Linked DNA regions of Homo sapiens. The protein of the gene in region 2 purifies or fractionates together with the protein of the main gene of each other region. This does not show direct contact. Each region holds a gene or a part of one and is shown on either strand. Other genes may lie near its edges. The genes, in order: SUPT5H, SLC35G1, HS2ST1, PACSIN2, TFRC, RER1 and TMEM63A.

Region 1 (3,500 bases), on a different chromosome or scaffold from region 2:
TCTAGCCTGGGCAAGAAGAGTAAAACTCCATCTCAAAAAAACAAACAAAAAAATGAAGTCTTGATATATGCTACAATATGGATGAGTCTTGAAAACATTAAGTGAAGCAAGTCAGTCACGAAAGGCGACATATTGTATGATTCCCTTTGTATGAACCATTCAGAGTTCCAATAGTCAAATCCACAGAGAAAGAAGGTAGATTCATAGTTACCAGGAGCTGTGAGGAGGGAGGAATGGGGAGTGATGACTAATGGGTATCGGTTTATTTTTGGGATAATGAAAATGTCCTGGAATTAGATGGTGATGATGGTTATGAATACACTACAATATATAAAATCCACCACAGTTTACACTTTAAAAAAATTAAATTTTAGGCTGGGCACAGTGGCTCAGAACTGCCATCCCAGCACTTTGGGAGGCCAAGGCGGGTGGATCACTTGAGCCAGGAGTTCAAGACCAGGCTGGCCAACATGGTGAAACCCCGTCTCTATTAAAAATACAAAAAAATCAGCCGGGCATGGTGGCGGATGCCTATAATCCCAGCTACTCGGGAGGCTGAGGCAGAGGTTGCAGTGAGCCGAGACCACACCATTGCACTCCAGCCTGGGCAACAAGAGTGAAACTCCGTCTCAAAAAAAAATAATAATCAGAGACATAACTCAAATGAAGTAACTAGAATTTTACCCCAGGGTACCATGTAGGAGGATTTGAGCACACTTCTTTTAATTATTATTATTATTATTTTTTTTTTTTTTTTTTTGAGACAGTCTCGCTCTGTTGCCCAGGCTGGAGTGCAGTGGCACGAGCTTGGCTCACTACAACCTCCAACTCCTGGGTTCAAGCAATTCTCCTGTCTCAGCCTCCCAAGTAGCTGGGATTATAGACATGCACCACCACCCCTGGCTAATCTTTTGTATTTTTGGTAGAGACGGAGTTTCACCATGCTGGTGAAGCTGGTCTCGAACTCTTAACCTCAGGTGATCCACACGCCTCAGTCTCCCAAAGTGCTGGGATTACAGGCGTGAGCCACCGCGCCCGGCCTATTATTATTTTCTTTGTAGAAATCAGTTGTCACTATGTCACTATGATGTCCAGGCTGGCCTCGAACTCCTTTTGCCTCAGCCTCCCAAAATACTGGTATTACAGACATTAGCCACCACACCTAGCCAAAAGGTACCTTTTCAACCTCCCTGTTGGGGAATCATACCCCACAAATCCCAATCTCACCCATGACAGGCAGGGACACTTATTACTATAATAATGAGGAAGACATTCCACCCCCTACCCACCCCGAGACGGAGTCTCACTCTGTCGCCCAGGCTGGAGTGCAATAGCGCAGTCTTGGCTCACTGTAACCTCTGCCTCCTAGATTCAAGTGATTCTCCTGCCTCAGCCTCCCAAGTAGCTGGGATTACAGTCAAGCACCACCATGCCCAGCTGATTTTTGTATTTTTGGTAGGGACAAGGTTTCACCATGTTGGCCAGGCTGGTCTCAAACTGGCTGGTTTCGAACTCCTAACCTCGTGATCCACCCACCTCAGCCTCCCTAAGTGCTGGAGATTCAGGCATGAGCCACCATGGCCGGCCTTTGAGGAGGACATTTGAGCACATTTAAAAGCATAGTTTGCAAACCCTACAACTGTCTACTTGGTCCCACTGGGTCACACCCAGTGGCTGGACAGGTGAAAGCATGATCCCTAGCAGGGATCATGTTAACTGAGAAAGTTACCAGCCAGCACCCTTCATAGCGTTTGCCCTGGTTCCCAAACTGCCAATGAAGCCTTTGACAACAGCTCTGCTAAGTAAATGCAAGCTGCAGAACAAGTCCTAGCTGAGAGCTGGACATAAAGCCACCTAATCCTTTTTTTTGTCACACTGGAGTGCAGTGATGCGATCTCGGCTCACCGCAACTTCTGCCTCCTGGGTTCAAGTGATTCTGCCTCAGCTTCCCAAGTAGCTGGGACTACAGGTGTGCACCACCACGCCCAGCTGAGTTTTGTATTTTTAGTAGAGACGGGGTTTCACCACGTTGGCCAGGCTGGTCTCAAACTCCTGACCTCAAGTGATCTGCCTGCCTCAGCCTTCCAGAGTGCTGGTATTACAGGTGAATGCCACTGCACCCAGCCAAAAGCCACTTAATCCTAATGATGCTGAGAGGCAACCAAGGGGCCCAGAGAGGGGAAGTAGGTGCATCAGAGTCACACAGCTAAGAAGTGGCAAGGGCAGGACTCAAACTCTGTCAGTCTAAAGAAAGACCTGGGCCTTGGATGCAGCATTTGCTGCCTGGCATGTGGTGAAGTGGGTGACCCCAGCCCAACAGGGCTGGTGAACAGGCAAACCCACTCTCATGAAGAAAAGGTGCAGGAAGCTAGCTGGCTGACTTCCAAAGGGCTACAAGGGTGGGAAGACCCTGCCATAAATGCAGAGAACAAAGACAACATATCCATCTAGGCCGAGAAGAGCCCTTCCATCTAGGCAGTGGTCTTATTCCAGCTCAAGCAGCTCACTCAGCAGGCAGCTCTGCTCACAACAGAGGCACCTGGTACCCCTGAAGTTGACAATGTTCTTCCCTCTGGGTGTTGCCATGTCTCCCCACCAAGCCGCCTGTCTACCCGACTTACCGTGTCTGTGAACTGGTAGGCAATGAACTTGCGCATCAAGGAAATGGCCGTGGCCCGTTCCTCCCCAATCTGGAAGATGAGAGGCAGATTTGAGAGAGATGACAGGATGGAGGAAAGGACACAGGAAAGGGGGAAGGAGACAGCAGCAAGAAAAATAAAGTAGGACCAAGAGAGGAGAGAGAAAGAAGGATGGACAGCCAGGAAGATGGAGGTGGGAGATAGCCAGTCAGTAACGTGGAGTGAGGGATGGAGACAGAAGGACCAAGTGACTGGCAGGCCACGGAGACCCGGGACAGACAGACACTTCTCCCCCACAAAGCAGCCTCCCTCATTCTCCCACCTCCTCCAAGCCCCGAGATCAGAGCACATACCTTACATTTGACAGTCCACAGATTGGGATCCCTAAGCAGCAGAGGAAAAGGAAGGCCTTCAGTGAAGCTGGATCTTCAGTAACAAACAGACGAACCCCCAGGGCCACCCCCTTCCTCTGGTTTCACATCCAGGTTCCCTCACACTCACTGACTTCCCCACGCTTCTACCCAGGAGCAAGAGGAAAGAGAAAGTGCCACCTTGCCCTCCCTACCCCTGCCATCCACCACACTGCCTGTGTGACTCTGCCCTGACTTATTTCAGGGAGCCACCTGTCTAGGCACCATCACCCCATACAAGATTCGCACCCCAGCACGGCCCCCACCATCCCAACCCCCTTACTTGACTCCTGGGAGCAGCTGCTGCTGGGTGATGTCGTCTGAGAGCTCATCAGATCCTCCATACACCCTGAAGGGAGGAGGGCAGTCAGGAAGGGGTGAAGCTCTGTCAGATCCCCGCCCCTTCCCGCTTAGGGACCACCTGCTCCCTGCCCCCACCTGCCCCCACCAT
Region 2 (3,953 bases):
AAACACACTTTGATTTTCTAACATAGTGTTTTCCAGGTGATATTATGCTTTTGCCCACATCATTGCATTTTATTTACATAACTACTCTGCGAAGCAGGAAGGGAAATACTTGATCGCTATTAAATAAAGGAGGTAATCAAGGCTTCGAGGGGTACAGTGGTGACTGAGGTCACACACTCAGGGCCAGAACCTAGGATTCCTGACTTCAAGTCTAAAACTGTTTCAGCTGTGGATCACTATGTGCAAATGTCTGAGTAAAGGCAAACTTCACTCTCCTTTGGTGATCTGCTTGGCACTGGACTTAGAAGTTTAGATACGTTCATCCTTGCACAGAGACTGTTCTTCCACATATAAAGCAAGCAAAGAGATGGAAGAAGAATTATTAGCTAAACAAAAAGAGGCTGTTAGTGAATCCTGGGCCAAAGAATATATTTTACCAGGTCTAATTACATCAGATTACTTGAATCTTACATCTGGCCAAATTAGGATATTTCCATTTAAGAAAAGAAAACCAAAGATCAATAATGCATGCCTACTCTTGCAAAGAATGCAAAGAACATATAAATGGGTTCTGGTCAGTCTTATAGATATATTTTCCTATAATTACACACTAATTCTTTCTTAAAAATATTTCCCAAAACAGCAAAATTCTACCCTCCTTGGTAAGCAGCAAAGGGACAACACGGGAAACAAAACAAAACAAAACAAAACAAAACAAAACATAAAAACCCTAGACCATTTAAAGACAAGCATGGTGCTTTGTAAAATCTTCGGGGTATCACAGAGGTGCTGAATGCGTGGTTACATCAATGAAAAAACGCCCACTCTTTGAGCCTCCTGAAAAGGAGGCCACAGGACCCCCGGGCGCCAGGGCTTGGGAACCCAGCGCCCCTCCTTGTCTGTGCCATGACAGACAGGTTCAGTGTGACTTGCCAAGGATGGCTCCAAGCAGCTGGGCCATGTAGCCTGAACGCAGCAGAGGGTTGGACGCCTTAGAGCCAGCTGTGGGCACCACAGCCCGACCAGGGAGGCAGCGGGTCTCCCCAGGTTAAGAGGCCAGCGGAGGACGCGCGCGGTCTCCTTGGGGGAGGGTGCGGGTGGGCCGGGCGCGCATGCGCATGGGCGCCATCGCCCGCCGGAAGAGCGGCAGCCCAGGCGCTGCTGCTGGCGCCAGACGGCACCGGCCGCTGGTAGAGCGCGTGCCGCGAGATGCGGCCTCAGGACAGCACCGGGGTCGCGGAGCTCCAGGAGCCCGGGCTGCCGCTAACGGACGATGCACCCCCGGGCGCCACTGAGGAGCCGGCGGCCGCCGAGGCAGCTGGGGCGCCAGACCGCGGTAGGTGCTGGCTCTGCCTTTCCTCGCCGTGTTGCTCCCGCACCGAGCCGGGTGAGTGCGCGGTGTGGATCGGGCTCTGGTCTCGCTCGGGGGTCCCGAGCGGGCGCCGGCGGGTTGGGGTCCCCGCAACCCGGGCACAGTGCCCGCCGCGCCTCCGTCCCCACCCTGCCCGGGGCTCGGGAAACCCCTCGAGCTGTCAGCTGGGGGGCTGCAAAGCGGAATTCCCGGCGCCCCAGCCGGCGCTAAGACGGAAGAAACTTTCCGATTGTTAGCAGTCCTTTTGGGATTCCGAGGCTGCTCCTGTAATTAGTGTCGGGGCAGGGCTGTGGAGTCAGACTGCAGTTTGGCGTACCCTCCCCTAGGTCGTAGGTGGGGGGTCAGCGAGAGAGGCCATCCTGCAGTGGGGCGACGTTGCGAGGAAGCTGACCCTGAAAAGTGATCCCGGTGGTTAAGGGTTCTCTCCGAAAAGGAAGCTGAAAAGCATCGAGTCTAGAAAAAATGTTCGTCCTAGAGTTTTAGAATCTTGGAAAGGCAGAGATAAGTGGGACCGCTAGTTTTTAACCTTTAGGGATACAAGGACTTTTTAGCAAACGATGCAGAACAAGGCATATCTTGTTAAGAAGCTCACAGCCCCGTCCCCAAAGTCAGGGACCCCTCGTGAAGAACACTTTATGTTCAGTCCCCCTCCTTCGACACATGAGCAAAGTGAGGCCCAGGAAGGTGAGGGCTTTTGGGTTTTCGTTTGCTTTGTCTCCTCCAAGATGTGGAACGTGGGGGTGAGATGGGGCGCATGTCCAGGGAGCACCAGGGTTAGGATCCCAGCTTGCCATATACCGGCCTAGGGCCCTTTCCACTGGCCACAAGTGCTGCTTCAAGCACATTCCTCTTAGAAGTCGACCATCTACCAGGAGCAGCTTCCTGCAAGAAGAAGGGAATAGGCAGATCTCTTTTTAGGACAGTTACACGGCCTGCACCACCTTGTCCTCTGGGTCACCTCCCCTAAGTGTGACCCTGGATTTCTGTTCCTCTCCTCTCACTGCGCTTTCCCCTCCTCCCTTTGTGCACTTTCCCCAAGTTAGAGAGACAGACTCTAGGAAGACTATTCTTGCTCCATTTCTGTCCTAAAGGCAAACCGAAATGATCAGACTTGTGATCATTTATAAATGGGCTGGTGCCTCTAGAACAGGGGTTATGCCAGGCTGAATTGAACAGATAAGCAGCCTTTGAAAAGGTCAGTTTCTCACCTATCACCCTCTGGGTGAATGTCCTTCTGGTGGCATGCCGAATCAGTCCATGCAAACTCTTAAAGTTTCCCCTTTTTGTGAATGGAAGAGGAATTCTCTACTCCCAGGCAGCTCATGGCAAGATGAGAAACTTACGTGAGTGTATCTAAGAATCTTGTGGGTGTTTAACTTCAAAGAAAGTTTCTACCAGTAAGACTTAGTTATTGTAAGGTGACAAGATAATATTTTGGAAAGAAAATTGACATAAAAACACTTTACTGTTGTCATTGAACTTTGTGACACCTCTTGTTCTAACTGCTTATCTCAACAAAGCTTTTTTCAAGTTCTGGTTGGAACTGTTACCCATATGTCTTACATTCTTGGATGACCTTAACAGACACATACAGCTGTCCCAAGACATCTCCTTACTTTCTTCAGGGACAGTGTGGGTCTTACACTGAAGCAAGGAGAAGTAGTTTCTTAGGCCTGTGCCTCACATCCTCTGGAGGGAGTTAGTGATCGAGTGTAGCAGTGGTTCTCAAACTAGTGGAGCCTTTTAGAGTTACAGAGATTCTATTTCGGTGGGTCTGAGATGGGGCTTGAGAATTAATTTTTTTTTTTTTTGGAGATAGGGTCTTACTCTGTCACCAAGGCTGTGGTGCATTGGCGTGATCACAGCTCACGGCGACCTCAACCTCCTGGGCTTACTCGATCCTTTCATCTAAGTCTCCTGAGTAGCTGGGACCACAGGCACACACCACCACACCCGACTAATTTAAAAATATTTTTTGCATTGATGAGGGGGTTTCCCCGTGTTGCCCAGGGTGGTCTCAAACTTTTGAGCTCAAGAGATCCTCCCACCTTGTCCTCCCAAGGTGCTGGGATTACAGGCATGAGCCACTGCACCCAGGAATTAAAGTTTTAAGTGTTACTCAGGTGATTCTAATTCCCAACCAGGATTGCGAATCACCAGCTGAAAGCAGAGGATAGAGAAGCTGAGTAATTTTTCAGTTTTCTTCTAAGTGAGGAAATTACACCATGGCCACTTACCTAATTTGAATAATTTGAGTTACCAAATTATTAGATATGCTTGCAGTGAGATATGAACATGGAACCTAAACAAATGCCTCTTTCAGTTATGCTAGTCATGCTCATCTCCATTGACAGGATTGAAATGATTTAGTAAGAAACTGAGGTTTGTCTGAGTGGAGCCAGTCCTCACCCTCGTTAACAAATCATCAAATGCAGCGAGGCCTTCTAATGTCTGTCCCTTCCCAGTTGGAAAGCATGAGCCTTAAGTGTTTATAGGCAAGAAAATACATGTGTATGTGTTTTAAGGGGAAAGGTCACTAGGGCCAAGGGGGTGCAATTACATTTTTAAAGAGTTAAAATAT
Region 3 (3,500 bases), on a different chromosome or scaffold from region 2:
CAAGCCTTGGCAGCTTCCACATGGTGTTGAGCCTGCGAGTGCACAGAAGTCAAGAACTGAGGTTTGAGAACCTCAGCCTAGATTTCAGAAGATGTATGGAAACACCTGGATACCCAAGCAGAAGTTTGCTGTGGGGCGGGGCCCTCATGGAGAACCTCTGCTAGGGCAGTGTGGAAGGGAAATGTGGGGTTGCAGCCCCCACACAGATTCCCTACTGGGGCACCACCTAGTGGCGCTGTGAGAAGAGGGCCACTGTTCTCTAGACCTCAGAATGGTAGATCCACTGACAGTTTGCACCGTGCACCTGGAAAAGCCACAGACACTCAATGCCAGCCTGTGAAAGTAGCCAGGAGTGGGGGGCTATATCATGCAAAGCCAAAGGGGTGGAGCTGCCCAAGGCCATGGGAGCCCAACTCTTGCATCAGTGTGACCTGGATGTGAGACATGGAGTCAAAGGATATCATTTTGAAGGTTTAAGATTTCACTGCCCCGCTGGATTTCAGACTTGCATGGGGCCTGTAACACCTTTGTTTTGGCCAATTTCTCCCACTTGGAATGGCTGTATTTACCCAATGTATCTAGGAAGTAACTAACTTGCTTTTGATTTTACAGGCTCATAGGCAGAAGGGACTTGCCTTGTCTCAGATGAGACTTTGGACTGTGGACTTTTGAGTTAATGTTGAAATGAGTTAAGACTTTGGGGGACTGTGGGAAGGCATGATTGGTTTTGAAATGTGAGGACATGAGATTTGGGAGGGGCCAGGGGTGGAATGATATGGATTGGCTGTGTCCCCACACAAATCCCATCTTGAATTCCCCTGTGTTGTGGGAGGGACCTGGTGGGAGGTAACTGAATCATGGGGGCAAGTCTTTCCCATGCTGTTCCCATGATAGTGAATAAGTCTCAAAATATCTGATGGTTTTAAAAAGAGGCATTCCCGCCAGGCGAAGTGGCTCACACCTGTAATCCCAGCACTTTGGGAGGCCAAGGTGGGTGGATCATGAGGTCAGGAGATCAAGACCAGCCTGGCTAACACAGTGAAACCCCATCTCTACTAAAAATACAAAATATTGGCCAGGCGTGGTGGCAGGCACCTGTAGTCCCAGCTACTCGGGAGGCTGAGGCAGGAGAATGGCGTGAACCCAAGAGGCGGAGCTTGCAGTGAGCCGAGATTGCGCCACTGCACTCCAGCCTGGGTGACAGAGTAAGACTCTGTCTCAAAAAAAAAAAAAAAAGGCGTTCCCCTGCATAAGCTTTCTCATTTTTTGCCTGCCACCATAAGATGTGACTTGCTTCTCCTTGCCTTCTGCCACAGTTGTGAGGCTTCCCCAGCCATGTGAACTGTAAGTCCAATTAAGCCTCTTTCTTTTGTAAGTTACTCAGTCTCAGGGCGTCAAAACGGGCTAATACAGGATGTTAAGGAAAGAAATGATACATAATTTTTTAAAGACCTATATTAAACTTCTAGAAGGGCAGGGGGAGGAGTGGGAGGCAACGCCTGAGATAAAAAATAAACTGGGTAATATTAAAAGTGGATTACATACTGCAGAAGGATTGGTGAATTAAAGACCTAGCAGTAAAAACTATCTAAAACAACACACACACACACAAAAAGACTGAGAATGATGAATAGAACATCACTGAACTGTAGAACAATTTCATGTGGTCTAATGTAAGTGTATTTTGAGTTCCTGAGAGGAGAAGCAGCATAGAAAAACTAACGTGAAGAAATAATAGCCAAAAATGTTTAAATGTAATAAAAACTGTAAACTCACAGATCCAAGAAGCTCAACAAACCCCAGGCACAAGAAACATAATACAAGGGCACAAGAAACATAATTTAATAATTAAATAATTAAAAACCTAGTGAAACTCTTAAAAGTAGGCAAAAGAGGAAAAATAAAAGACACGCTACATATAGTTGAACAAAGAATGATGGCAACCTTCTCATCAGAAACAATGCAAGCCAGAAGACAATGAAGCAATATCTTTAAAGTACTGAAACAACAAAAATGTCAGCTTAGAATTCTATACCCAACAAAAATATCCTTCAAACACTATAGCAAATAAAGACTTTTTCAGACACACAAAATGAAAAGAATTCATCACCAGTATATTTTTAAGTGTAAGTAATGTTAAAAGAAATTCTTCAGAGTGAAAAAAATGGTACCACATGAAAATCTGCATACACACACACACACACACACACACACAAAATGAAGAACACTGGGAATGGTAAATATGTCAGCAAATTTTTAAAAAATTTTTAAACATTTTATATATTTTTAAAATATAAGTTAAAGCAAAAATAATAATGTATTGTAGGACTCATGTATAGAAGTAAAATGTATAATGACGATAGCAAGAACCCAGAAAAAAGTGGTAATATATTAAGGTTCTTATACTACACATGAAATTCTATCATGTATACCATAAACCCTTAAGCAACCACTTAAAAAAAAAACAACAACAAAGAGCACTGCTAGTAAGTCATCAAATTAAAAAATGGAATTTAAAAATACCCCTTTAATCCTAAAGACAACAGAAAAAAAGGAATCACAGAACAGTTAAGATAAACAGAAAACAAATAGCAACTCACGAATTTAAACCCAACCACATCAATAATCACATTAAGTGTTCTAAACATTCCATTAACAAAAGAGATTGTGAAATTAGATGAAAGATTAGATGCTGTCTACCAAAAATCCACTTTAAATATAAATACACAAGTAGGTTAATATTAACAGGATGGGAAAAGATATACCACCTGACACTAATCAAAAGAAAACTGAAGTGTCTGTATTAGTATTAGACAAAGTAAGTATCATAGTCCATTGTGTGGTACTATAACAAAATACCTGAGACTGGGTAATTTATAGAAAACAGAAATGTATTTCTTCACAGTTCTGGAAACTGAGAAGTCCAAAATCAAGACACCAGCATCTGTTGAGGGACTTCTTGTGGCATCCTCACATGGTTGGGGGTAGAAATGGCAAAAGGGGGACAAATGCTGTCTTCTTACGTAGAAAAAAGAGAACACACTGCCACAAGCTCTTTTATAACAGTATTAATACAGTTATGAGGGGAGAGCCCTCATCACCTAAACACCCTCCACCTCCCGCCCCAATACTGTTGCATCGGAGATTAAGTTTCCAACATGTGAATTTTGGGGGAGACATTAACACCACAGCAGTAGGTTTCAGAGCAAAGAATATTACCAAGGATAAAGATGGTATCTTGTATAAAAAAAAGGGTTGGTCCATCAAGAAGACATGACAGCCTAAATGTGCATATACTTAATCACAGCACTTCAAAATACATGAAGCAAAAAGTGACATAACTACAAGAAAAACAGACAAATCCACAATTATCAAAGATTTCAAAACCCCTCTCCATAACTGATGAAGAGGCAGAAAAAAATCAAGAATACAAAACACCATAACAATACTACCAACCGACATCTACAGCATACTTCAGCCAATAACAACAGAATACATAT
Region 4 (3,500 bases), on a different chromosome or scaffold from region 2:
GCAGGAGAATCACTTGAACCTGGGAGGTGGAGGTTGCAGTGAGCCAAGGTCACACCACTGTACCCCAGGCTGGGTGACAGAGCAAGACTTTGTGTCAAAAAAAAAAAATTAGCTGGGCTAATTTTAGTGGCACATGCCTGTAGTCCCAGCTCTCTGGGAGGCTGAGGTGGGAGGATCACCTGAGCCCAGTAGATTGAGGTTGCAATGAATCATGATTGTACCACTATACTCCAACCTGGACAACAGAGCGAGACCCTGTCGCAAACAAACAAACAAATAAATAACCTGGGCAACAGAGCGAGATCCTGTCTCAAATAAATAAACAAACAAAAGTAGCAGATTAGCTGGGCGTGGTGTTGCATACCTATAGTCCCAGCTGCTTGGGAGGCTGAGGCAGAGGATCACTTAAACCCAAGAGGATACAGTGAGCCATGTTCATACCACGTACTCTAGCCTAGAAGAGAGAGCAAGACCCCATCTCTTAAAAAAAAAAAAAAGTAGGCTGGGCATGGTGGCTCACGCCTGTAATCCCAGCACTTTGGGAGGCCGAGGCACACAGATCACGAGGTCAGGAGATTGAGACCATCCTGGCTAAGAGTGTGAAACCCCGTCTCTACTAAAAATACAAAAAATTAGCCGGGCGTGGTGGCAGCCGCCTGTAGTCCCAGCTACTCGGGAGGCTGACGCAGGAAAATTGCTTGAACCCGGGAGGCGGAGCTTGCAGTGAGCCGAGATTGCGCCACTGCACTCCAGCCTGGGCGACAGAGCAAAACTCTTTTTCAAAAAAAAAAAAAAAAGCGGATGCCCAATGCCAAGACTCAGAAATAGTGAGGTGCTGCCAAGCCAGTGCCTGGACTCCTCACCTTGCTGGGCCAAGGCTGTGAATTGCAGGGCACTGGCTAGTCACACAGAAGGGCATCTGGAGAAGCTGTTGGCCAGGACCACCAGGTTCCCCCATATGTAGTCTGGGAGCTGCTAGCCCCGCAGGGCCATGAGAGAAGCCTTTCTCTAGGGGTCCCCAACTGCCAGAGAAGCCCTCAGGAGAGCCACAGCTTTGCCCAGACCCCAGAGTAGCACTTGGCATGCCCCTGGGCCAGGTGGGGCCTTGTCTCAGGCAGCAACTTGTGTGTGTGCACACCTACCTGCCCACACCTACCATGCACACACCAACCCACACACATATCTGTGTTGCTAGGAGCAGAAACCATAGTTTTATAAAACAGCCTGGATCCTGATTACATGTGCTCTGCCTGTGAAGACTTTCTGTGCAATGTCTTTTTCTTCTTTGAATGGTCTTCAATGATAATCTTTTTTTTTTTTTTTTTTAATAGAGACACGGTCTCACTCTGTTAGCCAAGCTGGGTTACAGTGGTGCGATCATAGCTCACAGCAGCTGCAGCCTTGATCTCCTGGGCTCAAGCAGTCCTCCCACCTCAGCCTCCTACGTAGCTGGGACCACAGATGTGTGCTACCACCCCACCCACTATAGGAATCTTTTTTAATGCATTTGCAGTTTACCAAAATGGCTTTTCACATCTTCAATTTGAAAAGTGTTATCTTGTCCGGGCACGATGGCTCACACCTGTAATCCCAGCACTTTGCGAGGCCAAGGCCGAAGGATCACTTGAGGTCAGGAGTTTGAGACCAGCCTGGCCAACATGGTGAAACCCTGCCTCTATTAAAAAATAAAAAAATTATTCAGGCATGGTGGCACACACCTGTAATCCCAGCTACTGGGGAGGCCAAGAGAATCACTTGAACCTGGGAGGTGGAGGTTGCAGTGAGCTGAGATCATACCACTGCACTCCAGCCTGGGTGATGGAGTGACACTCTGTCTCAAAAAAAAAAAAAGGAAAGAAAATTGCTATCTTAGCACCTAAGGAAGCTGGAGTGGCCTAGGGCCAAAGTGGACCCACAGCAACCCAGATTCTTCCCTCTCTTGCCCTCTTTGTGAAGCTCCCCCAGAAGCAGCATCTACCACTCCAAGAGGGAAGCTGGGCCAGAACTCAACCCACACAGGCTGAAGTGTGCCCTTGCCCCTAGGCTACACTTGTGGGAAAGGCTGCCTTACCACCACCACCCCAACCCCTGACTCAGCAGGGAAGCCAGGGCCTGGGGGCTGTGCCCAATGGCCTAGCTTCTAACCAGTCTTCAGCCTCCTCCCCTCAGCACCCAGAGTGCCAGCCTGCTGTCCCCAGACACTCTTCCCCTGGGCTGGTTATCAGCTGCCTCTGCCCAGTTTGAGAAGTTGGGTTTTTTTGTTTTTTTGGATTTTTTTTTAATGTGCCTTTAAGCCATCTTCATCCAGTTTCTGATATCTTTGGTTGGGGTTGTTACCCCCGACTTTGTTGGTTTATTTGTTTATAATTTCTAACTCCTTTTCAATCCTGCCTATTGGGTTTGACAGTAATTTTGTAGATTTAAAATGTTTCTTCCAGATCCAAGTAAATTGTCAAAAGCAAACTGATTGAAATGAACCTTCTAATCACCAGTTCACATTTGCACAATGTGAAAGCTTTCCTGTCCGTTCTATTTTCTGTGTTATCCTGCTTTTTAACAATGCAAAATTAGCTCCCAGCCAGTGTGGCTTGACTTACGTCTCTTGCGGTGTTCTGGCTGTTTGCCACATGGTAGTGTGGGGTTACAGGCCTCATCCTAGCCTCGGTAGCCTGGATCCAGGCCTGTGAGAGCACAGCAACCAATGAAGGCAGGACAAAAGAAACGCCAGGGGCCCGAGGCACGAAGCGGTGGAAAGAGATGGTGGTTCATCGTGGCTGCTGCCCTGTGGCCCCTGCATCTGCTCCTGATGCCTCTGGGTTAGATCTGCAGGCGCACTGGTCTGGCAGAAGCGGCACGACAGTGGGAGGCTGAGCCAGTGCTTACGCATGTCCCACCCTCCCAGGGTTCTTTAGTGTCTTAACACTTAATCTTCACAGTACCCCCAGTCCACAGATGAGGGCCACAGGCCCAGGGAGTGGACGCAGTTGGTCCAGGTCTCCCAGCCAGTGAGTGATGGCTGTGGGATTTGAGCCCAGGCAGTCCGGGGAGCACTGGAAGCCCCAGGTATTAGCTCCGCAGGCATGTTGACCAGCATTGCTGCCATACAAAATCCAAAGCATCAGGGAAATGCTAAACCAGGGGGAAAACTGCATCTAATTCTGAAAAATGGACCAAAAAATGCCAAAGAGAGTTACAAAACTTCAAACTTAGCAATAAAGGCAAAACAGCACTGGGACTATTTCTTTCCCACCAATTGCTTGCTCCTGACGAGGTCCGAGCCAGCAGGCCCAACTGGCCTTCCCTGCAGTGAGTTACCAACCAGAAGCACACAGGCCCCTGCCCACCCCTGGGCTCTGAGCTGCTCTGCTTCCCTAACCTGGCAAATGCCAGACCTGGGGCCCTACCCTAGTGCCACCTCCCCCTCACCACCCTAGTCTGCCTCCTTGAGACCAGGATCCATCAGTTCCTCTCATCTCTGTATCTCCTCTTCTACCCAAGGC
Region 5 (3,500 bases), on a different chromosome or scaffold from region 2:
CAGCCCAGGCAACATAGCAAAATCCCATCTCTAAATAAATTAATAAAACTAATATTAAAGTAGCTTCCAGATTGTTTTATGGTACTAGGAGTTGATTTTTAACAGATCTCTTAATTGAAGTAAATCACTGACAACCGAATCTTTTTATATCTTTTTTATTTTTATTTTTATTTTATTTTTTTTGAGAGATGAAGTCTCGCTCTTGTCCCCCAGGCTGGAATGCAATGACATGATCTCGGCTCACTGCAACCTCCACCTCCCGGCTTTAAGCGATTCTCCTGCCTCGGCTCCCCAGGTAGCTGGGATTACAGGCGTGTGCCACCATGCCCAGATAGTTTTTGTGTTTTTAGTAGAAGCCGGGGTTTTACCATGTTGGCCAGGCTGAAGTGCAGTGGCGAGATCTCGGCTCACTGTAAGATGCGCCTCCCGGGTTCACGCCATTCTCCTGCCTAAGCCTCCCGAGTAGCTGGGACTACAGGTGCCGGCCACCACGCCCGGCTAATTTTTTGTATTTTTAGTAGAGCCGGGGTTTTACCATGTTGGCCAGGCTGGTCTTGAACTCCTGACCTCAGGTGATCCACCCACCTCGGCCTCCCAAAGTGCTGGGATCACAGGCATGAGCCACCACGCCCGGCATCTTATGTCTTTCTTGAAACTAATTGTAACTGTTGAAAATGGAACTTACCAGGTGGAAATAACTAAATCCTGAAGTACCTTGAACCAAAATGTTTTCCCCTATAGGGACATTTTCCCCCAAAAGGAGAATTGAACTGGAAACAATATAGTACATAGGATTATATAATTATGTTCAATTTCTTAATGAGAATGGTTTTCTTACATGCTGGGCTCAAATATGAGTGTATATCACAGTCCATAGAGCTTGGAACCCCTGTGCAAGGTGCTTTCGGAGTCTTGAGCTTATCTGCGAGTTCCTTTTATCAGAATCTTACTTAACGCACGTTAAATTAGAAAGGCATACAAAAGAATGTCCTTAGAAATAAAACTTCTCATAGCGAATAATGTCTGTTTCAGGAAATGGGCCTGAGTTTACAGTGGCTGTATTCTGCTCGTGGAGACTTCTTCCGTGCTACTTCCAGACTAACAACAGATTTCGGGAATGCTGAGAAAACAGACAGATTTGTCATGAAGAAACTCAATGATCGTGTCATGAGAGTAAGTGAACTTTTGGGAAAGGAGGAACTAAAGTATGTGTAAAATAACCGATAAATCTTACACTTCTGCAAAGTGGACAAACTCTAGGAGTCTAGAATTCCTTTAAGAAGGGAGCATTAATGGTTTAGCTGTCATTTTCTGTTTCTGCTGTCTAATTCAGAACTTAGTCAAACCTAGTCTTTTTGGAAGAGACTTGCTGTAAAACTTCCATGTATGCTCCAATGGGGAAAAGAATCTGAACACATTTAAAGTTTTCCTTTGTAAAATGAATCAGTTTCCTTTAAAAAAATTTTTTTTTTTTTTGAGACAGAGTTTCACTGTTGTTGCCCAAGCTGGAGTGCAATGGCACGGTCTCGGCTCACTGCACCCTCCACCTCCCAGGTTCAAGTGATTCTCCTGCCTTAGCCTCCCGAGTTGCTGTGATTACAGGTGCCCAACACCACGCCCGGCTCATTTTTTGTATTTTTAGTAGAAACGGAGTTTCACCATGTTAGCCAGGCCGGTCTCGAACTCCCAACCTCAAGTGATCCACCTGCCTTGGCCTCCCAAAGTGCTGGTATTACAAGCGTGAGCCGCTGTGCCTAGCCTCCTTTAGAATTTTAACCTTAGAAGATTAGCATTAGCCTGGTTCTCAGCATTCTTTTTTCCTTACTCTGCTATAGAAAGTCTGATCAGCTGGCTGGGTACAGTGGCTCATGCCTGTAATTCCAGTACTTTGGGAGGCCGAGGCAAGCGGATCACCTGAGGTCAGGAGTTCAAGACCAGCCTGACCAACATGGAGAAACCCCATCTCTACTAAAAATACAAAAATTAGCTGGGCGTGGTGGTGCATGCCTGTAATTCCAGCTGCTCAGGAGGCTGAGGCAGGAGAATTACTTGAACCCGGGAGGTGGAGGTTGCAGTGAGCTGAGATCGCGCCATTGTACTCCAGCCTGGGCAACAAGAGCGAAACTCTGTCTCAACAACAACAAAAAGCCGGGCACGGTGGCTCACACCTGTAATCCCAGCATGAATTGCTTGAACTCGGGAGGTGGAGGGTACCAGTGAGCCGAGATAGCGCTGTTGCACTCCAGTCTGGGCAACAAGAGCGAAACTCTGTGTCAAAAAAAAAAAAAAAAAAAAAAAGTCTGATCGGCATTCTTAAATTTGGGACATTTTACATTTGAAGTGAACTGTTGTTTTACTACAAAAGTCACAGGGCTGTGTAAATTGCCTTGTGTGTTGTTTTCGTAGGTGGAGTATCACTTCCTCTCTCCCTACGTATCTCCAAAAGAGTCTCCTTTCCGACATGTCTTCTGGGGCTCCGGCTCTCACACGCTGCCAGCTTTACTGGAGAACTTGAAACTGCGTAAACAAAATAACGGTGCTTTTAATGAAACGCTGTTCAGAAACCAGTTGGCTCTAGCTACTTGGACTATTCAGGGAGCTGCAAATGCCCTCTCTGGTGACGTTTGGGACATTGACAATGAGTTTTAAATGTGATACCCATAGCTTCCATGAGAACAGCAGGGTAGTCTGGTTTCTAGACTTGTGCTGATCGTGCTAAATTTTCAGTAGGGCTACAAAACCTGATGTTAAAATTCCATCCCATCATCTTGGTACTACTAGATGTCTTTAGGCAGCAGCTTTTAATACAGGGTAGATAACCTGTACTTCAAGTTAAAGTGAATAACCACTTAAAAAATGTCCATGATGGAATATTCCCCTATCTCTAGAATTTTAAGTGCTTTGTAATGGGAACTGCCTCTTTCCTGTTGTTGTTAATGAAAATGTCAGAAACCAGTTATGTGAATGATCTCTCTGAATCCTAAGGGCTGGTCTCTGCTGAAGGTTGTAAGTGGTCGCTTACTTTGAGTGATCCTCCAACTTCATTTGATGCTAAATAGGAGATACCAGGTTGAAAGACCTTCTCCAAATGAGATCTAAGCCTTTCCATAAGGAATGTAGCTGGTTTCCTCATTCCTGAAAGAAACAGTTAACTTTCAGAAGAGATGGGCTTGTTTTCTTGCCAATGAGGTCTGAAATGGAGGTCCTTCTGCTGGATAAAATGAGGTTCAACTGTTGATTGCAGGAATAAGGCCTTAATATGTTAACCTCAGTGTCATTTATGAAAAGAGGGGACCAGAAGCCAAAGACTTAGTATATTTTCTTTTCCTCTGTCCCTTCCCCCATAAGCCTCCATTTAGTTCTTTGTTATTTTTGTTTCTTCCAAAGCACATTGAAAGAGAACCAGTTTCAGGTGTTTAGTTGCAGACTCAGTTTGTCAGACTTTAAAGAATAATATGCTGCCAAATTTTGGCCAAAGTGTTAATCTTAGGGGAGAGCTT
Region 6 (3,500 bases), on a different chromosome or scaffold from region 2:
TTTAGGCAGAAAGACTTCTTGTTTGTATAAGAAAGTTAAAGCATTTATATTTTTATTTATTGTTTTGAGATGGGGTCTCACTCTGTCGCCCAGGCTGGAGTGCAGTGGCCTGATCTTGGCTCACTGCAACCTCCACCTCCTGGGTTCAAGTGATTCTCTTACTTCAGCTTCCCGAGCAGCTGGGATCACAGGCATGTGCCACCATGCCTGGCTAATTTTTGTATTTTTAGTAGAGACGAGGTTTCACCATGTTGGCCAGGCTGGTCTTGAACTCCTGACCTCAGGTGATCCACCCGCCTTGGCCTCCCAAAGTGCTGGGATTGCAGGCGTGAGCCACCACACCCGACAGAAATTTAAGGCTTTTGAAATTGAGAATGCGGTTCTGGCTTTTAACGGGATATGCTTAATCATTTTAAAAAATGAATTAGTTGCAAATAAGTGTGCTGCACTCAGGCATCTTGCCAAAATTCTCCCCACTTTTCATCTCTTGAGGAAGGCTTGGCATAAGCACACTTTTCTGGATTTCCCAGTTGTGGATTTCTTCTGGGCAAAGGTTTAACCCTCCTGGCAGAGTGTTTTTGGCAATGTGAATTGTCTGTTGGAGGAACATCAGCCAGCACGCCTCCAGTCACAGTTGAGAGTCTGTCTTCTGTTTCTGATGAAGCTGCTCCTGGGTGGGGCTCTGGGCCAGCATCGCTCAGGTGCCCGGGCCACCCGAGCCTGTGGTGTAGCTTGAGCATGTGCTTCTTGAGAAAAGCCTCCTTTTCTGCTGCGCTCCTTGTGGGGCGTCTGTGGCTTCAGGGATCACATGTGTCTAACTGGACCCTTGAAGAGCTTTGCTCATTTGGGCCCTTGCTTGTCCGCTTTGTCTCTGTTCCCACAGAGTATAATTTGAGATAAATTGTTACCATGGGATTTCACTGTATTTCCTTGTCCTTGCTATGAGTAAGTTTTGTGTTAAAACAAAGTTAGATCAGTTAACAAAGTTGAGAGTGAACCGGAGTGCAAACGTGAACTGGCTCAGGCTGATGGACGGTCAGAGTGCACCACTGACTCTCTTTCCTTCTCTTTCAGGGTTGGTACATTGTGACCTATGCCTTGGGGATCTACCATCTAAATCTTTTCATAGCTTTTCTTTCTCCCAAAGTGGATCCTTCCTTAATGGAAGACTCAGGTAGGGTAGCGGCTGTGCACTGGGCTGTGTGGGCAGGTTGGGCCTTTCTTTTCTGATGGGATTGCCCAGTGTTCTCTGGAAACACCCGAGACTCTTCTCTTGGGGTTGAAATGTACTTGTAATGTTGGGTGATCAGGATATGTTTGTAGAATGACTCTTCAAACCCTCCTGACAGCCACGAAGTGGGTGTTCATTCTGTTTTCCCACTTTGCAGATGAGGAAACTGAGGCATACAGGGTTAGGTAACGTGTTCGAGGTCACATGGCACCACAGACAGTAGGGGTCTGAGGTGGACAGTCCGACTCCAGCCCCCGTCCCACCCCAGTCAGTGGTCCCTCTCAGAATCAGCGGAGGCAGCCATGACGAGGTTACCTTTTCCCGTAGCCAGAGGGTTCCACAGGCAGCTCACTGTGGTGCACAGAGACCGCCGGGACTCTAATGCCAGCATCGGGTCGGGTCAGGCTTTGGGCGGCCTTCTCTGGTTTCTGAGGAGCTGTGAGCTGAAGTGTTCCTGGTGCTTCGTGCTCCACTATTGGAAGACTTACGCAGCTCCTGGGCCTGCCTGGGCCAGGTAGGGGCCCTGAGTTCATGCCTGACTGGCCAGCCCCAGGCGAGGAACAAACAACTGCATTCCAGGACGTGGTGGCCATTGAGGGAAAACCCACACGCAGCTCCCTGCCAGGACCCTCCTCGTTCTGGGGGAACCTGCTGTCAGGGAGTAGGGTATGCTCTCACTGTGTGGCCAGAAGCCTGTGAGTCTTCTGTGTAGGATATGTGATGAAAAGATTGCTGGGAACACAGCCCCTCTCTGTTGTTGCTGTTTGGAGGAGACTAGAAAATAACAAAGAGCCCCTTTCCTGTAGGCCTCAGTTTTCCCATCTGTAAATGGGGAGCGGCACCCATCCCAGTGGGGGAGGCGGGGTGAGAGTGGGCTTGGCACAGCTGCTGGTGGGACAGGCCTGGCGCCCGGGTTCCACGGTCAGCGCATCCTCGGCCCCGCCCTGTTCTCTGCCGCTTGCTTTTTATGTTAATTTGCCTTTGTTTTCTTCTGTGCCTTTACGTGGTGCAGCTGACGTGTTCCTGGATGTTTATATGTGGTTGAATTCTTCGTGCATTGAAAACGTGTGGAAGTCTAAAAACATTCTGATAGCACCTTCTGAAAGCAGTGAATTGGATGTGTCAGTTGACCACAGACCCCCGTTTTCTCGTTTTCTCTGGTTAAATGACATGAATCTCGGTTTAGATTTGTGAGGCCTGCTAGTCCAAAGCCTTGAGGGGAAAAGGTAGAACTGTGATGGGAATGAAAAGAGGTGCCCTCCCTGATGGTTGCTCTGCCTTACAGATGACGGTCCTTCGCTACCCACCAAACAGAACGAGGAATTCCGCCCCTTCATTCGAAGGCTCCCAGAGTTTAAATTTTGGTGAGCTAATTCTTCACGGTATTTGAAGAGAATTGTGCTCAAGGGTGGCTGAGACTGAGACTACACTGATTTTTGTTCAAGTCACCTGAAAGATGACTGCTGTGCTGGGCTGGGCACGGGGAATCGCAGGGGCTCTCTGTAGAAGGCCACTCACTACCTTGCCGCATTCTCTTGGTTTCAAGTCAGCACCAGTGCCCTGGAGGTTGAGTCTGGGATGGAGTGCGCACCGGCTTCTGTGGTTGTGGCCTGGGGAGGGCAGGCCCTCTGTCCTCCCTCCTCCTCCCTCCTCCTCCCTTCCTCCCTCCTTCCTCCCTCCTTCCTCCCTCCTCCACCCTCCCTCCTCCCTCCTCCTTCCTCCCTCCTTCCTGCCGCCTCCTCCCTCCTTCCTGCCTCCTCCTCCCTCCTTCTCCCTCCTTCCTCCCTCCTCCTCCCTCCTTCCTCCCTCCTCCTCCCTCCTCCTCCCTCCTCCTCCCTCCTTCCTCCTTCCTCTCTCCCATCCCCAGCCTTGTGGCTCCTTTTGGCTGGCAGAGGGACTAGCCTTCTCCTGGAGTCATTTTTGAGAGGGGTTTGAGCCGAGGTGTCCGTGTCTGCACGGGTAGGCAGAGGTGGGTGGTGCAGCCGTCAGAGGGACGGGAGCGTGTGCATCCGTTTGTCTTGTCCCTCATACCCCACTCTGGGAGCACAGGAGGAACCCAAGTCTGTTAGATCAGTAAACTGAAGGAGCCTGCTGAGCTCGTGGGGCTCCACGCCTTGACTTTGCAGCCGCAGATGGAGTGTGGTACAGAAAGATCAGGGGCCCTGGAAGCCACCAGAAGCTTGGACTAGGAAGGGAGAGCTGAGCCTCCAGGGCCGTGGCATCTGTTGGCCATGTGCTGGGACGGGAGGGAGCACTGGTGGCCATGCCA
Region 7 (3,500 bases), on a different chromosome or scaffold from region 2:
CCCTCCTTGGTGGGTTCTCTCCCATCTCCCCAACTCTAGATTTTGGCTGCCTGAAGGCTCAGCCCCCAGTTCTGGGTCCACACTGCCTCTCTAGGTGACTTCAGCTGAACCCACGGCTTCCATGCCATGATACTGCTCCTGAATTAACTTATGCGGACAACATCCACATTTATGCCTCTAGCCTGCACCTCCAGGCTGGTAACCCAACTGCCCACCTCAAACTCTAGCTGGAGTTTTACTGGGTACCACGGATGTTACCTGCCCAAAACCAAACTCTCGACTTTTACCCTCAAATCTGCTACTCTACAACTTTCCCCATTCCATATTGTTTTTCTACTTGTTTTGGCAAAAAACCTCAAAGTTCACCTTGTTTCCTTTCTATCCCTCCCATGCCATACCCAGCCTACCAGAAAATCCTGACAACTCTCTCTAAAGTAGATCCAGAATCCCTTCATATCTCACCACCTCCATCACAACCGCCCTCATCCCACATGGGGATGACACAGTGGCCATCTGTGTAGTCTCCCTGACCCCATTGGAACAGATCCCTTGTCCTGGGCTGGCCCCCAGCCCCTTTCAGCCTTGTCTTCTGCCTCCCCTCGCCCACTGCTGTCCAGCCCCTGGATGTGCAGCAGACGAGGACATCCTCAGGTGTCTTGTATGTTGTTCCCTTTCCCTGGAATCCTGTCTTCCCAGGTTTGGGGATGACTTGCTCCTTCACCTCTTCACATTTCTGCACGAATATCACCTCGTTAGAAAGGCTCCTCCAACCCCTGTATGACATAGGAACCCTCCCTGCTTTGTTTTCCTCTAGTGCTCACCGTCCCCAGCAGATGGAATATTTGTTTGTCTGCTTGTTTGTGCCCCCAGCTAGAATGTGAACTTCAAGAGAGTGGCGCAGGGGCTTTGTTCTATTCTCAGTGCCTAGAAAGGTGCTTGGCACACAGATGTGTTTCCCAAATATGTGCTGAATGAACGGAAGAGTATACAGCCCTCCCAGGGGCTTTCTGCTCCTGCCCAGCCTAGGGGCCCCTCCTCTCCCTCCAAGAGCGGCTCTCAGCTCACAGACCTGGGCCCTGGTTTCCCCAGGTGCGTCTTCCTGCCTGACCAGGGTGCCTTCTTTGTGAACTATGTCATCGCCTCGGCCTTCATCGGCAATGGCATGGAGCTGCTGCGGCTGCCAGGTCTCATCCTCTATACCTTCCGCATGATCATGGCCAAGACGGCTGCTGACCGCAGGAATGTCAAGCAGGTGCCATCCCCTGGGCCCAGGGCTGTGCCTCTGACTCCCTCCCATGTCCCCCTTCACTGACCCGAGGGCCTCTCACCCCCACTACCCCCACTAGTGGGTAGCATTTACCTGACTACCCACTAGTGCAGGCACTGGGCTAAGTGCTTCTCAAACCCGGGTCCAGGCAGGCGTGGCCTCCTCCAGCCTCCTCTCTAGCTCACAGGCTGGAGGAGAGAGCTTGGGACTTTGGCATTTGAAACGGTTTGATCGCACACATACATACATACAACTCAAACCAACAGACTCTTTTTCTGTAGGCACCCATTTGCATAAATTCTTAGCCAAACCCCAGATGTCAAAGGCATTTTCGGCTTGTGGCATTTATTCCAGGATTCCCTGAACTGGAGGGTGTGGCTTTCTCTTTTATTCTCCTCTGCCATGGTGGGCACTGTGCGAGGAAAGTGGGAGAAGTGCTGCATTCCTTCATTTCATTCTCAGCCCCCTTATGAGCTGGGCACTGCTAGTATCCCGATTTCACAGAGGCATGAACTAAGCTGGCCCAGGATCCCCTGCTAGAAGGGCTGGAGTCACTCTACACCTCTTCCCTGACCACCTCTTCCCTCCAGGGGCTCACATGCCTGTTGGGTGGAACGAAGGGAGCACTAGCAAACACGCATCACCATGCCTCGGGAGGGCTGGGTGCACTGAGTGAAGCAGGGCAGGCTGGGAGGGATGGGAAGGACCTTGGGAGGCGGGGAGCCACGCATCTCCTATTTCCAAAGTCCTCCTCCACCCTGCTCTCCCATCACCACTTAGAGAGCACAAAAGGGTGTTTGAGGTGGAACAAGTCCATGAGCTCCTCACCACCTCCTCCTCCCAGAACCAGGCCTTCCAGTACGAGTTTGGAGCCATGTATGCATGGATGCTGTGTGTCTTCACTGTCATCGTGGCCTACAGCATCACTTGTCCCATCATCGCGCCATTTGGTGAGTGGCCCTGGAGCCTGTCCCAGGGTACATGGGTACATGGACGGCTGATTGCACCAAACCTCTCGGGGACAGCTATCACCAGGGCACAATGGAGTTCCCAAAACCACAGCCACAAGAGCCACAAGCTGCTAAAGACTCACGTGACACCAGATTTCACTCATTTCTTTCTTTTTTTGTTTTGAGACAGGGTCTCATGCTGATGCCCAGGCTGGAGTGGCATGATCTTGGCTTACTGCAACCCCCACCTCCTGGGCTCAAGCCATCCTCCCATCTCAGCCTCCTGAGTAGCTGGGATTACAGGTGCCCGCCACCATGCCTGCCTAACTTTTTGTATTTTTAGTAGAGATGGGGTTTCACCATGTTGGCCAGCCTGGTCTTGAACTCCTGACCTCAGGTGATCCACCCGCCTCAGCCTCCCAAAGTGCTGGGATTATAGGCATGAGCCACAGCACCCGGCCTCATTCATTTTTAAATGAATTCCTCCCACTGGCCCTCAGCTAGGACCTCTCTTAGTATTTCTGGTCTGAGGTTCTCTGCCCACTGACTATGTCGTTCATGGTTGATTTCTTTAGCAGCAAGTAAGACAGTGCCAGAGTCACAATCAAAGCTCTCGTGCTGCTTTCACTCTGGCAGATGCCTGCCTCCACGTGGATTACCACATTTCTCACCTCATCCTACAAGGCAGTTCCTGTTTCTATTCCCCCTTCACACAAAATAACTTCGTATGTTGTTAGTAAGCAGGAGAACCAGCCTTTGAACTCAGGACTGTTTAAAGACCAAGGTCCTGGCCACTGAAATAAAACATCTGCAACTGGCAGATTAATGAAAGGCTCTAGAAGGAAACAAAAAACCCAAGAGACTGCTGGCAGTGATAGCTGAGTTTTAGGGGGAAAAGTTGTTTTAGTTTTCCCTGTATACTTTCTTGTGTAGTTTTAAAAATCTACAGTATTTACACTTTCAAAACAAAATTTATTTTTTAAAAAAGAACCTGGGGCTGGGCACGATGGCTTATGCCTGTAATCCCAGCACTTTGGGAGGCCTAGGCAGTGCATCACCTGAGGTCAAAAGTTCAAGAACAACCTGGCCAATATGATGAAACCCTGTCCCTACTAAAAATACAAAAATTAACTGGGCATGGTGGCAGGCGCCTGTAATCCCAGCTACTCGGGAGGCTGAGGTAGGAGAATCACTTGAACTCAGGAGGCAGAGGTTGCAGTGAGCCAAGATTGCACCAGTGCACTCCAGCCTGACCAATGAGCGAGACTCCATCTCAAAAAAAA

The links.
Region 1: the proteins of SLC35G1 (region 2) and SUPT5H purify together in Homo sapiens (affinity purification with mass spectrometry; one large-scale study listed by BioGRID and IntAct). This does not show direct contact.
Region 3: the proteins of SLC35G1 (region 2) and HS2ST1 purify together in Homo sapiens (affinity purification with mass spectrometry; one large-scale study listed by BioGRID and IntAct). This does not show direct contact.
Region 4: the proteins of SLC35G1 (region 2) and PACSIN2 purify together in Homo sapiens (affinity purification with mass spectrometry; one large-scale study listed by BioGRID and IntAct). This does not show direct contact.
Region 5: the proteins of SLC35G1 (region 2) and TFRC purify together in Homo sapiens (affinity purification with mass spectrometry; one large-scale study listed by BioGRID and IntAct). This does not show direct contact.
Region 6: the proteins of SLC35G1 (region 2) and RER1 purify together in Homo sapiens (affinity purification with mass spectrometry; one large-scale study listed by BioGRID and IntAct). This does not show direct contact.
Region 7: the proteins of SLC35G1 (region 2) and TMEM63A purify together in Homo sapiens (affinity purification with mass spectrometry; one large-scale study listed by BioGRID and IntAct). This does not show direct contact.

What each region holds. Positions count from the first base shown.
Region 1 is NC_000019.10:39,459,082-39,462,581, reverse strand, and holds part of SUPT5H (transcription elongation factor SPT5), read right to left. Parts: intron 3,399-3,500; coding exon 3,333-3,398; intron 3,024-3,332; coding exon 2,993-3,023; intron 2,691-2,992; coding exon 2,622-2,690; intron 1-2,621. UniProt on the Homo sapiens protein: Component of the DRB sensitivity-inducing factor complex (DSIF complex), which regulates mRNA processing and transcription elongation by RNA polymerase II.
Region 2 is NC_000010.11:93,892,825-93,896,777, forward strand, and holds the start of SLC35G1 (solute carrier family 35 member G1), read left to right. Parts: upstream 1-1,153; 5' UTR 1,154-1,209; coding exon 1,210-1,387; intron 1,388-3,953. UniProt on the Homo sapiens protein: May play a role in intracellular calcium sensing and homeostasis. May act as a negative regulator of plasma membrane calcium-transporting ATPases preventing calcium efflux from the cell.
Region 3 is NC_000001.11:86,921,135-86,924,634, reverse strand, and holds part of HS2ST1 (heparan sulfate 2-O-sulfotransferase 1), read right to left. Parts: intron 1-3,500. UniProt on the Homo sapiens protein: Catalyzes the transfer of a sulfo group from 3'-phospho-5'-adenylyl sulfate (PAPS) to the 2-OH position of iduronic acid (IdoA) or glucuronic acid (GlcA) within the heparan sulfate (HS) chain and participates in HS biosynthesis.
Region 4 is NC_000022.11:42,872,150-42,875,649, reverse strand, and holds part of PACSIN2 (protein kinase C and casein kinase substrate in neurons protein 2), read left to right. Parts: intron 1-119; exon of another isoform or gene 120-3,158; intron 3,159-3,190; exon of another isoform or gene 3,191-3,500.
Region 5 is NC_000003.12:196,051,091-196,054,590, reverse strand, and holds part of TFRC (transferrin receptor protein 1), read left to right. Parts: intron 1-1,032; coding exon 1,033-1,173; intron 1,174-2,406; coding exon 2,407-2,649; 3' UTR 2,650-3,500. UniProt on the Homo sapiens protein: Cellular uptake of iron occurs via receptor-mediated endocytosis of ligand-occupied transferrin receptor into specialized endosomes. Endosomal acidification leads to iron release.
Region 6 is NC_000001.11:2,398,341-2,401,840, forward strand, and holds part of RER1 (protein RER1), read left to right. Parts: intron 1-1,074; coding exon 1,075-1,174; intron 1,175-2,516; coding exon 2,517-2,595; intron 2,596-3,500. UniProt on the Homo sapiens protein: Involved in the retrieval of endoplasmic reticulum membrane proteins from the early Golgi compartment.
Region 7 is NC_000001.11:225,851,381-225,854,880, reverse strand, and holds part of TMEM63A (mechanosensitive cation channel TMEM63A), read left to right. Parts: intron 1-1,089; coding exon 1,090-1,252; intron 1,253-2,111; coding exon 2,112-2,217; intron 2,218-3,500. UniProt on the Homo sapiens protein: Mechanosensitive cation channel with low conductance and high activation threshold. In contrast to TMEM63B, does not show phospholipid scramblase activity. Acts as a regulator of lysosomal morphology by mediating lysosomal mechanosensitivity.